Homo sapiens: one gene and its partners. The protein of the gene in region 3 purifies or fractionates together with the protein of the main gene of each other region. This does not show direct contact. Each region holds a gene or a part of one and is shown on either strand. Other genes may lie near its edges.

What was found. Proteins that work in one complex are often made in the same cells at the same time.
Region 1: the proteins of EVI5 (region 3) and APAF1 purify together in Homo sapiens (affinity purification with mass spectrometry; one large-scale study listed by BioGRID and IntAct). This does not show direct contact.
Region 2: the proteins of EVI5 (region 3) and MYO5B purify together in Homo sapiens (affinity purification with western blotting, with the first as the bait; one study listed by BioGRID). This does not show direct contact.
Region 4: the proteins of EVI5 (region 3) and RGPD8 purify together in Homo sapiens (affinity purification with mass spectrometry; one large-scale study listed by BioGRID and IntAct). This does not show direct contact.

Annotation. Positions count from the first base shown.
Region 1 is NC_000012.12:98,665,790-98,669,289, reverse strand, and holds part of APAF1 (apoptotic protease-activating factor 1), read right to left. Parts: coding exon 3,499-3,500; intron 3,101-3,498; coding exon 2,933-3,100; intron 1,778-2,932; coding exon 1,646-1,777; intron 1-1,645. UniProt on the Homo sapiens protein: Oligomeric Apaf-1 mediates the cytochrome c-dependent autocatalytic activation of pro-caspase-9 (Apaf-3), leading to the activation of caspase-3 and apoptosis. This activation requires ATP. Isoform 6 is less effective in inducing apoptosis.
Region 2 is NC_000018.10:50,185,148-50,188,647, forward strand, and holds part of MYO5B (unconventional myosin-Vb), read right to left. Parts: intron 1-3,500. UniProt on the Homo sapiens protein: May be involved in vesicular trafficking via its association with the CART complex. The CART complex is necessary for efficient transferrin receptor recycling but not for EGFR degradation.
Region 3 is NC_000001.11:92,701,609-92,705,108, forward strand, and holds part of EVI5 (ecotropic viral integration site 5 protein homolog), read right to left. Parts: intron 3,137-3,500; coding exon 2,947-3,136; intron 2,314-2,946; coding exon of another isoform or gene 2,233-2,313; intron 2,225-2,232; exon of another isoform or gene 2,129-2,224; intron 2,012-2,128; coding exon 1,787-2,011; intron 608-1,786; coding exon 533-607; intron 1-532. UniProt on the Homo sapiens protein: Functions as a regulator of cell cycle progression by stabilizing the FBXO5 protein and promoting cyclin-A accumulation during interphase. May play a role in cytokinesis.
Region 4 is NC_000002.12:112,392,146-112,395,645, forward strand, and holds part of RGPD8 (RANBP2-like and GRIP domain-containing protein 8), read right to left. Parts: intron 2,609-3,500; coding exon 2,473-2,608; intron 1,075-2,472; coding exon of another isoform or gene 962-1,074; intron 1-961.

The sequences.
Region 1 (3,500 bases), on a different chromosome or scaffold from region 3:
AAAAAGATGCATTGGCTCAGTAATTCTACTTCTCGGAATTTGCCAAGGAAACAACATAGGTACAAAGATAAACAAGAATGCTCATTACATCATAAGGACCAAAAAAACTGAAAACCTAAATGTTCGATAACTAGAGTTTGGTTAAGTAAATTAGGGCACAAGTATTTATTGGAATACCATCATTCCAATATACACTATTAAATGTAAATATATTTTGCTAGATAAAAAAACAAACTACAACAATTTACTATGTATCATAACCAAGAAATAACATACCTGAGCATAGAAAATTTACTGAAAGTACATATGGTTTTCCAAATGTAAACATTTTTAGTAGCTACTTGGTAGTCATGACTTCAATCAAATACCATCTATGTGCTAATAATTCCTTATTTTCATCTTTCATCTATAATTCTCCCCAGAATTCTAGACTCATATATCTAACTGCCTATTCAATATTTCCAGCCAGATGCCTTAATAGGTATATCAGACTTAATATATCCAAAATGAGTTCTTAACCATCCCCATTCTCTGCAGGAAAAAGCTTGTTCTCCCAAAGACCCCTGTTTCAGTTCATGGACTCCGTTCTTTCCACTGGGGTTTGAGTCATCTTTGATTCTTGGAGTCATCTTTGATTCTTCTCTTTCTCGTATAATGCATACCAAACCCATAAGCAAATCATGATGATTCTACCCCTCTATCATCACTTTCTTTCCCCTTCCATGCTCTGTCCTTCTTCTGAGCACTTAACTACCCACTGAAATATAATAAATTTGTTTAATGTCTGCCTCCTCCCAGAACATAAACTCGTGAGAGCAATGACTTTGTGCCTGTGCTTTATCCTCTTAATGAAGAGCAATATACATAACAAGCACTCAATAAATATTTATTGAATCAATGAATATACTTTTCCACTATCCATTTCCTCTCAAAGCTTACAAAACAAATCCATACTGCCCAAAAAGGAAAGCTACTAGTAAGAAGAGGATTAATTCTGAGGTGGTTCATTTACTAGTTACTAAGGTACCTTTTCTAATCACTACAGGTAAAAACAAAAATAATTATGCAAGCTATAATCCCATTTTTACTAATAAAAAATTATACTAATAAAACAATACATGTTTATGAACAGGACAGCAAAGCAAAATACCAAACAACGACGACAACAACAGTGGTAAATTTAACTACATAAAAATTCAAATCTTCAGCCAGCCGCGGTGGCTCATGCCTGTACTCCTAACACTTTGGGAGGCTGAAGCGAGTGGATCACTTGAGCTCACGTCAAGCTCAGGAGTTTGAGACCAGCCTGAGCAACATAGTGAAACCCCATCTCCACCAAAAATACAAAAATATTAGCCAGGCATGGTGGCATGTGCCTATAGTCCCAGCTACATGGGGGGCTGAAGTGGGAGGATCACTTGAGCCCAGGAGGTGAGGGTGTAATGAGCTGAGATTGTGCCACTGCACTCCAGCCTGAGAAACAAAGTGAGACCCTGTCTCAAAAAAAAAAAAAAAAAAAAAAAATCAAATGGAAAGCAATATGAACAAAATTCAAGACAAAAAATAACAGAAAAAAAGCACTTATTTGTAATACATATGGAAAAAGGGAAGTCAGATAAAAGAATTTTTAAATGGGTCATCTTACCTTGTGCATCTTGGCACTGGCCATGTGATAGGCCAGAAAGTTGTACCAATACATACAGTCTTCCTGATCTGGTGAAAGAGTATGCGGCTGGTGATATCTCTGAAACTGAGTGATTATCTTCTTATGTAGATCCTGCAACCCAATGAAACGTTTCAGAAGCCAGAAACAATTTTATAACCTAAGCATCACAGTAACTTCAGCTTCCAAAGCTATTAAGAATGTACAGAGAGGCCGGGCTCGGTGGCTCACGCCTGTAATCCCAGCACTTTGGGAGGCCAAGGTAGGAGGATCACTTGAGGCCAGGACTTCGAGACTAGCCTGGGCAACATAGAGAGATATCCGTATATTTAATTTTTTTACAAAAAATAAAAAATAAAAAAAATCAGTCAGGTGTGGTGGCATATGCCTGCAGACCCAACTACTCGGGAATTAGCTACTCAGGACCAACCGAGCCCAGGAGTTTAAGATTGCAGTGAGCCACTGCATGCCAGCCTGGGCAACACAGTAAGACCCTGTCTCAAAAAAAAAAAAATACATATATATATACAGAGAATCTCCCCACAAAATAATGACTTTACAGTGCAGAAACCTGGCAGATACCACTTTAAACAAATTATCAACATTAACATCACCCATAATAAAACATATCAACACCAGGAGTCTGGGAATAGTGGCTCATACCTACAATCTCAGCACTTTGGGAGGCCAAGACAGGTGGATCACTTGAGCCCAGGAGTTCAAGAACAGCCTGGGCAACATGGCAAAACACTATCTCTACAAAAAATTTTTTAAAAACCACCAAGTACTCTCAGCCTATGACGCCACTGAGAAAGATACAACATCATTGGTATTCTTGCCAAATATCTATAACTTCAATCTAGTCAGGAAAAACATCACACAAAACCAAATTTGGGTATACTGTACAAAATTACTAGCCAGTACTCTTCAAAGGTGACAAGGCCATGAAAGATAAAGACTGATAAATTTTCACAGATTTGAGGAGACGGAAAAAAATGACAAGTAGGGAAACAAGACAATCATATGCAATACGGGATCCTAAATTGGCCTGGACTACAAAAAGAACACGTAGGTTAGTGAACAGTATTGTATCAATGTTAATTTTCTGGCTTTAACAACTGTACTATGGTTATATAAAATGTTAATATTAGGGGAAGCTAGGTGAAGGACTTATGCACAGAAACTATCTACTATTTTGTAAATTTTCAATAAATCTAAAATTATTTCAAAGGAAAAAGGAAAAAAAAAAGTAAACCAAGATGCAAGTACCTGAAGCTGGCTGCAATTCTTCTCTGTAAGAAAATCTACTTGAAGATCATGTAAATAATAACGAAACGACTTTCCATTCCGATCACAGAATAAAAGAGACTTATTTACAAACTCCTGCAGTATGTCTTCAACTTCTTCAGTTTCCATGTCCCAGAGAATACATAACACCTAGGAATTGTTGTAAGTATTTAATATGCCACAAAAGTACAATGACCAGGACTGTAGACAGGTATTATCACACACACAAAAAAACGGTATCTTAAAGCCCTGAGTAAGAATGTCTCCATTTCTTAAGAAGAAACTCAGCTACTCCTCAAGATAGAAAAGAGAAAGAGAAGTCAGATGCTTCTTCAGCTGCACTAGAACCACAGAAATAGGTTAACTCCTGAGTTCAACACAAAGCCCTTAATGGAAGCTAACAGCAGAGGGATTTCTACACCCAACACCCCACCACCTCAGTCCCCTGGGTCTTATCCTTCCAAGGTTCTCTGTAACAACATGCTCAGTACTATATCAAAGCTTACATGCAATAAATACCCAATGATGAGGATCATTGATCCCATTACCT
Region 2 (3,500 bases), on a different chromosome or scaffold from region 3:
AAACAAGAAATATAAGGAAAACAACACATTGTTCCCAGTGATCAATAATGTAGAGCCTACCAAGCATGTGAACAGAGGCTCAACCCTCCAATGAAAGTCAACTTTAAAACATGTGTAAAACATTTAGTATGAATAAGAATTTAAAAAAAAAAAAAGAGAGAGAGAGAGAAAGAACAATGACCCGAACTTAGAGTGGCGAAGAAACAGACTGGTTCTCTTGTGGTGGCTATTGGCCATATCAATGAAGACTATAAATGTGCATGCCAGCAATTCCAGCTTTAGGAATTTATTCTGAGAAAATAAATGAGGTTACAAGAACAATCTTTCACAGTATCAAAAGATTAACAATTTATTAGTATGTTCAAAAAAGCTAGAAGATAGGATCTTGAATGTTTCTAATGCAAAGAAATGATAAATGTTTGAGGTGGTGGATAACCTAATTGCCCGATTTAATCATTATACATTGTATACGTGTATTAAAAAAATCACTTGAACCCCATAAATTTGTGCAATTATTACTGTCAACAAAAAACAAAAGGAAAATAATTGGAACCAACCTAAATGCTCATCAGCATGGGAATGGTTAAACACATTACAGTATATGGCATCAGATCTTGGCAATTTAAAAAATGTATATTTTTAAGAAAAAATTACAGTACATCCATATGCTGCCTTGTGCAGCCATTAAAAATGGCAAAATTGCCTTTGTAGGCTACAGGAAAAGATAGCCATAGATTAAGATTTAGAGTAATAGACATGGCATGATCCCATTTGTTTTGAGTACATATTGTGCATAAGTCTAAAGCAGCACTGCCCAAGAGAAACAGAATGCAAACTACAACTGTGAGCCACCTGTGGTACTTTAAATTTTCTAATAACCACATTTAAAAGGTGAATTGAACAGAATATTTTAGCCAATATATAAATAACAATCACTTCAACACATAACCAATATAAGAAGTATGAAGGATATTTCGCATACATTTTTCTAAGTCTTGGAAACCCAGTGTGTACAGTACTGCACGCTTCCAGCTCATCCCAAGCTGGGCCAGCCTCATCGCAAGTGCTCAGCAGCCACATGCAGTTACCCTGTTGGACAACGGAGGTCCAGAGAACATGCCTAAGTGGTCAAGAGCAGCTGTTTCTGGGAATGAGACTACAGAGCTTTTGTCTTTCCTGCATTGTATGGATTGTTTCAATAATCATTTGTATTCACAGAGGGAAAACAGAAGCATTGTGAAAAATGCTTTTTAATTTTCCTTTAAAGCTATAATAAGAGACCAGAAAGCACAGGTTAAACTTAAAACTTCTTTCAGACTGCTCTTGCTCCTTCCCCAGGGGTGGTGGGGAGTACCATATCTTGTCTACCGCTCTCATAGTTCATGTTTGTAGCAATCCTACTTCCTCTTTCACCAAGTCTCCTTGTGATCAAGACCCCTTCAGGACAGCAGGGAAGGGTTAGGGGAAAAAACATGCTAGCCACATAATGCTGACTGCCACCCAGCATGGTGACTGGAGGGAGAAGCAAACTAATGAACAGTTGCCAACACTATGTTAGACAAGCACTTCACATGGATTAGGATTATAAGCCTCCAGTAACCTTCCCATGGTGCAGGTACCACCCCAATTCTTCAGATAAAGAAATCAAGGCTTAGAAAGTATCTGTTCCAATGTGTCGGAGCTGAGAGCGCCACAATATCCAGGGTGTCCACCTCAAGATCATAGTCACAAAGGCCTTGGAAATGCCCATACCAAGCTCCTGATCTTACCCTTATTAACACCATGCTATCAGACAACTGCATTTCTTCATTAAAGAAAAGCAAATCCCAGGCATCATTTGCAAGAACCCCAGATCCTGACATTTCTCCTCTAAGCTCTTTCGTAAATCTCCAAATGTAAATAAATGCTTTCACTTAGACAAACCATTTTCATCCCAAACCCAACATGTCAAAAATCAAGAATTATCCCTGCTCCAACCTGACTTCTGTCCACACTCAAGGTGGATATTTCAAGTTCATAGTTGACTCTTCTACTTCCCTTGCCCTTAATAAAACATTTATTGAGTTCTAGTCTCTGTAATTTCTACATAACTACAAAAAGTAGTAATGAGTACACCTAGCAACCAGATCTTCATTTCTAAATTCCATTCTTCAATAAAAGGAAACTGACAGGCATCAGCTTAACCAAGGGATCAAAGTGATCCGTCAGTAACAGGACACATTGATATCACTGTCTCCTGAGGTGATGCAGTGAGAAAGGCACAGCATTTATGATGTGTTCTTGCCCAAAAGTCACAACCTCCATGTAAGCATAAGACAGTCTGACAAACCCAAAATCATTCTACAAAATTATTGAGAAATGCTTTTTTTGGGGGGGTGGGCGGTGGGCAGACAGGGTCTCACTCTGTCACCCAGCCTGGAGTGCAGTGGCACAATCACAGCTCACTGCTACCTCAACTCCCAGGCTCAAGCAATCCTCCCACCTCGGCCTCCAGAGTAGCTAGGACCACAGGTGCATGCCATCACACCCAGCTAATTTTTTCTATTTTTTGTAGAGATGAGGTCTCGCTATGTTGTCCAGGCTAGTCTCGAACTCCTGGGTTTAAGGGATCCTCCCATCTTGGCCTCCCAAAGTGCTAGGATTACAGGTGTGAGTGACTGTGCCTGGCTTGACCAATGTTCTTCAAGTGTCAAGGTCATGAAAGACAAAAAACTGAGCAACTGTCACTAGAGGGGGGCAGGGAGCTACAACCCTAAAGGCAATGTGGAACCCTAAACAGGATCCTGGCCCAGAAAAAGAACATTAGTGAAAAAGGTGGTAAAATTCCGGTGAGCTTTATAGACCAGTTAGTAGTATTACAGAAATGTTAACCTCCTGGTTTCAATAATTGCACTATGGTTATATGACATGTTAACACTGGAGCAATCTGGAAAAATATAGAAACTGCACTATTTTTGCAATGTTTCTGTAAGTGTATATTTCAAAATAGTTAAAAATAGTGCTATAATTATCCCCATATACATCTAGCTCATACCTGTCCCTATGCTTAAACTCACTCTCCCCTGTCTCCTCCTGAGAGAACATCCTTCTTTACAGCCTCCTCATGCATTTCAAATCCTATTCATTCTTTAGGCCCCAGTCATGTCCCACTACACCTTAAAGGAAGCCTTTCCCGCAATACTGTAGCCCACCAGACCAACACTTCTACAAAATGCCTGTAACTTGTAGAGGAGTATGTGCACTCCTCTAATGACACACAGATAATCCTGTATTGTTAGTGTACTTTGTGTATTTAGCTTTTATCACCAAACACACTGAAGGCTCCTAAAAACATCTGGTATGGCCTCTGTTCTCCAGAATCTCAGCCTACTTAGATAAAGCATCACATAAAAACTATCAACAAGGCTGAGGTGGGTAGATCATGAGGTCAAGAGATTGAGACCATCCTGGCCAACATGGTAAAACCCCGTCTCTACTAAAAATACAAAAAGTAGCCGGGA
Region 3 (3,500 bases):
ATTCTGAAAACATTCCACCCAAACCCACTGCACACTCAATAACAAAGTTATATCCCTAGGGGGTAAAAGTGGCTGAGTACCACTATTTTAGGGCATGCAGTGAGGTATGCATAACAAGCTTTTAGCTCCATGATAAATTAAATTCTCTATAAATCTCTAAAGATGTTGTACAATATAAATAAGATTTTCTTACCAACACTTTAATTATTTCCTCCTTGGTTAGAAAAAGATTACTCTTCATTAAATGTTAACAAATAAGATTTTAAACTACTGTAGATTCAAGCTTTAGTAGAATATTACAGTAAAAATGTATCTATCATGAAGTTGAAATTTCATTTGGTGGTAAGATATTACTATGTTATTTTAACATGTTTAATCTTTTAAAATGCAAACTAAATATTTGTATTCAAATTATGCCTAGGAAAAAATACCCATATCCACTTACATTTAATAAAACAAAGATGCTTTTTAAACTCTCCAATCCAACTTAATAAAAAATTTCATTGGACATTTAATACTTATATTAACTTACCTGCATAAGCAACAATCCAACTATAAAAGCACTTCCTTGACAGTAACCAACCTCACGATCTACTAAAGAGTAAGCCTAAAAAGTAAAAAAAAGTTGTTCAAAATACATGGTAAGTTATACCTTCCTTCTCCAAAAAACCTAAAATTGGCAAGACAGACAGATTAAAAAACATTTATTTTTGAGAAAAGCTCTTGCTTGCTTGTTATAGATGTTATCCTATACATATTTAAAAAGCAAATGTTTTATTACATGAAATTTTATTTTGACAATTTCCCAATCCAAACTTGCTAGCTCTAAAGACATAAAATAAAATAAAATAAAATAAAATAAAATAAAATAAAATAAAGGAATTTGTAACAGGGCTTAAAAATCAAGTAAAATTGAGCTGGGCACAGTGGCTCATGCCTATAATCCCAGCACTTTGGGAGGCAGAGGCAGGCGGATCACCTGAGGCCAGGAGTTCGAGATCAGCCTGGCCAACATAGTGAAACCCTGTCTCTACTAAAAATACAAAAATTAGCTGGGCGTAGTGGCGGGCGCATGTAATCCCAGCTACTAGGGAGGCTGAGGCAGGAGAATTGCTTGAACCTGGGAGGTGGAGGTTGCAGTGAGCTGAGATCACACCGCTGCACTCCAGCCTGGGCAAAAAGAGTGCAACTCCATCTCAAAAAAAAAAAAAAAAATTCAAGTAAAATTTATATTGATGTATATAAAACTAGACTAGGTTTAAGGCAAAGGATTGGCGAAATTGAAATGATTTAACAAGAAGTCAGTATTTCAAAGAAGTAGCTAAAAGAAAAAGTAACTGTGGGAAGGGAAATGGCAATATTGAAGAAAAAATGACAATGGTACACCTTTCAAGGGCTAAGTGCTCTTAACAGTGCTGGCCATAGAAAGCAGAAAAATTTGCTCACTGTAGGAACACAGATATGATAGGAGAAACCCACATCCCAGGTTTTGAACTTCACAGATGGTGAATTATTCCTTTTCATGAGGATCCCTCTATGATATGTGACTTTTAAGCTATTCCATTTCCATCAACTAATGCTAAATAACGTAGTAAATGTTCTAACAAGTTCTCTATACTAGATAGTAATGTAGCATAAGAATTAAGGCAAAAATGATGCTAAAACCAATTTCACTGCCAAAGCAACTGATTATTGTGGTGGGAGGTCATGCTTCATCATGAAAAATGTATAATTTCAACCTTCCAGGAATTCATTTCATTTCAAAAAATGAATAAATAAAACTTACCTTCATTACATTAAATAAAACCTCCTGTCCAAGGCTATCTTTTTCCTTAAAAAAGTTGTGTTCAGGGTAAGTTCTAGCAATGTCCCTTCGGATCAATTTTTCACAAGGCGAGGTCATTTTCAGGAGTTCTGAATACTGATCCTTAATTGGCATACTTTGTGCACTGCATAAAAGTTGCCAAACTATTGCTCTAAAGTGATGGGGTATCCCTTTATGAACAAGTTCCTAAAAATAAAATAAAATTACAAAAATGAATTATTTAAGTGTCCTATCTTGCAAGCCAAGGAAGACTTATTAGGGGGTTGGAATGAAGTAGAAGACATCATTAAATTTGTAACTCACAAAGCTAGCTTTATAATAAGACTAGGGAACCCTGTAAGTCAAGGGTAAGATTGGGCCCTGGGTGTATCCTCTTCTGGTCAGGGGATTAATAATGATCATTTCACCTCAGTGTGTGACCTCTTAAGGTAATGGACTTGAAACCTGCAGAGCTGTGAATGATGGTACAGTACCCAACATTCAAAGGGCTGTTGAAGGCAAAAAAAAAAAAAAAAAGGAAAATACTGTTATTCAAGAATGCAGGATATCACAACTTCATTTCTGAATCAATAAAATGAGAGAATTTAATTTCTAAAACAATTTTCGGGCCGGGTGTAGTAGCTCACAACACTTGGAGAGGCGGAGGTAGGAAGACTGCTTGAGGCCAGGAGTTTGAGACCAGCCTGGGCAACAAAGCAAGACCCTATCTCTACAAAAAGGAAAATAAAAAATTAGCGAGGTGTGGTGACACACACCTGTAATCATAGCTACTCAGGAGCCTGAGGCAGGAGAACAGCTTAAGCCCAGAAATTCGAGGTTATAGTGAGCTATGACTGCATCACTGCACTCCAGCCTGAGCAACAAAGTGAGTCTTTATAAAATAATAATAAGTAAATAAAATAATTTTCAGTTATATATTTCTATATGATCAGGACCTCTGTAACAACTGATGTCTACAAATTAAAACTTTTAGGGGTACAAGTAAGTGAAAACAAATAAAGCAGACCTCTTTAATATATAGCTTGGAAGTTGTATTTGGGGTTTTTTTCCCAATCCTCTATTAAGTTATGTCTGACGCACTATGGAATAAGAATAAGAACTTCAACAAAGAACATGAATACCTTAACTTGCTTTTCCTTCTTTTTGCGTACATCTTCCCATTCATTAACAATTCTTCCCCAAAGAATCCAAGAATCTTCTTCAAGGTGACTGAGGTTGCTAGAGGCTGATGAACTCGACACAAGAGAAGAGCCACTGTTTCTTCTTGACCCATTTACAGATCTTAAAGACTTACTATCCGTTTCTAACAATCTAAAATATAATTAAAAACTGTTCAAGATCTAATCGGACAGTGATATTAGAAGAGGCATTGATGATACTTAGAGCTTTATTACTGCAATTTAACCATTGTTTTAAAATATAGTTTTAATAATATACATAATTTAAATAAATTTTGGTCACATCAATAAAATTACTGCTATATTTTTTTCACCTATTATAGCAGTTTGAAAATTTGAAAAAGCAAATTACGTTAAAAATTTTTGAGCTACTAGCCCCATTATAATTTCCCTTCGTCTCCATTAAAAATTCAAATTAGGGGAAATCTGATGAGAAAAGTATTTGGGTAGGCTTCAGGAAAAAAGAACTTATACTTGGAAGAGGTACAACAAATCTA
Region 4 (3,500 bases), on a different chromosome or scaffold from region 3:
TTTTTTAAAGCACCATATGAATAGACAATTTAGGAAAGAAATGTTAATAGGCCTCAAGGAACATGTTTTTGAAGTGAGCCTTGAAAATCTGCAAAATGACGAGGTTGCATTGTGCAAATTGAAGCTATTATGAGAATGTTCAGGTCAAAAAAATTACCTGACAAATTCACGCACAGGATCTCACAAGGAACACAAATGTGTTCGTTGGCTTTAAAAAAATCACATTAACATTCATGTTGATATACAAAAACTCTTCTCCATCTGTTTTGTGTGAGTTTTACCAAGAAACCAAACAACTGGAAGGTACGTTGAAGATGGCAAAACTACCAACTGCCATTTGCATGAATTGTTGAGCATGACTAGTATTAAAAAAACTTAAAAATTGATATCACTTTTGTTCCTACAAATTGGCAAAGGATTTTATAAACTAGTAAGTCAGCATTAGCAAAAGTGCGAAAATGGCACTATCAGATACTAGCGGTAAGAGCATAAACTGAATATTTTGAATACCCTACAAAACTAGGACAGTGTCCTAGAATTTGTAATGGCATAAACCAGAAACAACATAAATAAAGGAACAGAATTTACAGTACTTCCATGTGATGGGATACCATGAACTCATTAATATTCAAAAAACATTTAAGTTTAAAAATGCTCAGAACTAAAGTAACATTTTAAAAACAGGCTAGCTCATCTACACACAACATAGTAACATGGTAACAATCTCATAAAAAATACTATATGTATAGAGAAAGAACCAGAAGGAAATGCTCTCAAATATAAGAAATGTTAATAAGGTGGTTAGCTTTTAGTTTTCTTCACCCTGTTCAGTACTTCTGAGTATCTCCTATGAGCTCATTAATCTTTAATTTTAATCATCTTATTTTAAAAAAACAAGGACCATCTTGATATATGTTTACTTTTATTAAGGAAAAAGAATCTATGAACACAGGAACAGAAATCAGGAGATCTTGGCTCTCGCCCTTTCAGTGCCACAAAGCTGTTTTGTGAACCTGTAAATAATCCATTTGGAGTCTCCATGTTTCTCAATTGTAAAATGACGATGTGCTGCTTCTACACATTTCACAGGGTCATTGCAAGAATAAAATGAGACAATGAGAATGTTGGATTTACATGCTTGTATAAGAACAGAAGACCTTTTATGCCTGTACACAGAAGAAATGGAAATCATGACCCACAAGGCACCAAATAACTGACTGCACACATCACTAAAAAAGCCCCAGGAAAGGCTAGCCGGTTTGTTTATCCTCTTACAAGGACCTATATGATGTGTAAGGTTTTAAGAAAACAAGGTTTGAACGTTAGACATTTCATATACTTATCTATGACTTACGACATTTAATAAGCTTGACTTCACAAAGATTTTCTGTTATTTTGCTTGTGTTGAGAAGATACTATCACAAAAGGCTAGTGGGGTTGCCTTAACTATAGGAACCATCACACAAATGTGCTCATCTAAACTAGATTTTTTTCTAAATCTTTCCTGGGCTAAAAAGAGAAAAAAAAAAAGGGCACTACTACTACCATTTCAGAAGTCTGTCGTACGTAAAAGGAACAATTTTGTTATTTCTGGCTGCCTGGGAGCAATGTATTATACTGGCAAGTGCTTTGGAGTTACACCACTGGAGTGTGAATCTCGGCTCTATCAATAACTAGCTGTATAATAATGAGTAAGTTACCTAACCTTTCTTTATCCATTTCCTTATTTATAAAAAAGGGATTAATAATGGTGCCGGCCATTCTAAGTTACTGTAATTAAATCAAATTACATTCACACAGCACTTTTGCACACAGCCAACCCACAGTAAACACTATTAGTAACCTTAGTTCATTAACTGTTTACTGTATACTCTAATAAATGTCTGATACACACCCACGCCCACCTGCACATACACAAATGCTCATAGTAATTATGTAAGGCAAGTATTATCTCCACATTTCAGACAGGTTAACTTACACAGCTATTATAGTAAGTGATAGAGCAGAACTTAAAAACCCAGTATGATTCAGGTCCAAACTCCTTTTCTTTCTTTATATAACCATAATATTTCAAATTAAGTAAGATTTCCTATATAACGTCCTGCCTCTCATCATTATCATCAAAATAATTCCCCAGAGGTGTAGGTTCTTAATTAAGCATTTCTTAGTGCATAACTCTATTCAATAACATTTTGCAATTTAAGGAATAATCTCATCTCAGCTCATCTGAGGTGTGGATTAAGTGTTCTTTAAGCCTTTATATACACGTGATCACATACGGCTCGTTTTTTCTGCTTGGGATTATAAAAATCTCCGTAACACCTAATACAGCTTTTGAAGTCACATATAAACAGACGTTGACATGTATATTAACAAACATATATAAACAAGGTGATTTCACACGTTATCTACTTAAAAGAGGGAAGTAAAGTAGTTTTACTAAAATATGCGATTATCCACTTGCCAGCTCACCTGTTAGTGGAGCCCCATGAAATGTCTGTGACCCCTGATATCCATCAGGCACCGAGTCTGGTCCATAATTCTCTGTGGGCCAACGATGACGGGATGCTGACTTACTGCTATTTAGTTTCAACTCCTGCATTTCTTTCTATTGGAAGAAAAAAAAAATCAAATAATTTTAATCATTTAATTATATCATGCCAGAAACAGTGCTGGGGAAACTTACTCTTTTAAATTTAAATAACTGATTTTTTCTTTTTTTCTTTTTTGAGATGGTGTCTCGATCTGTCGTCCAGGCTGGAGTGCAATGGCACAATCTTGGCTCACCGCAACCTCCACCTCCTGGGCTCAAGCAATTCTCCCACCTCAGCCTCCCGAGTAGCTGGGATTACAGGCGTCAGCCAGCACGCCCGGCTAATTTTTGGTATAATAGTAGAGATGGGGTTTCACCATGTTTGCCAGGCTAGTCTTGAACTCCTGACCTCAAGTGATCCACCACCTCAGCCTCCCAAAGTGCTGGGATTATAGGTGTGACCCACCACGCCCGGACCTGATTATATCTTTTGAAAGTTTCTATTTGCCAAAGAGTTCTAGGTACCTGGTGCTGATTTTAAAATATGATTCTTAATTTGTTAAAAATTTATCTGCTCCCATTTTCATTCGTTAATACAAAACCTAATTCATTAACTCTCTCACCTAAACAAATAACCTCCTAAATGATCACACCTTCATTTCCATTCTACACTTGCCTACATTAACCTTTCTGACGTTCACCTCCAGCCAAGACAATTCCCTGCTCAAAAAAACAAGTACCTACAAACTAAACTTCTTTCCCCAACTTTCACAGTCCTCTAACATTACACTGACCATCCTTTCAGTGTGTTCTTTCTACACTGCAACCTGGACTACCTGACATTCCAAATCACCTCCCCAAATTAGCTTTTCACTTAACCCTGTGTTCAAACAAAATACAACTAATTCTCAAGGTGATGTTCAAATGCTCCACCAGGAAAGGGAAAAAAGTAGTAGCTGCAGAGAAT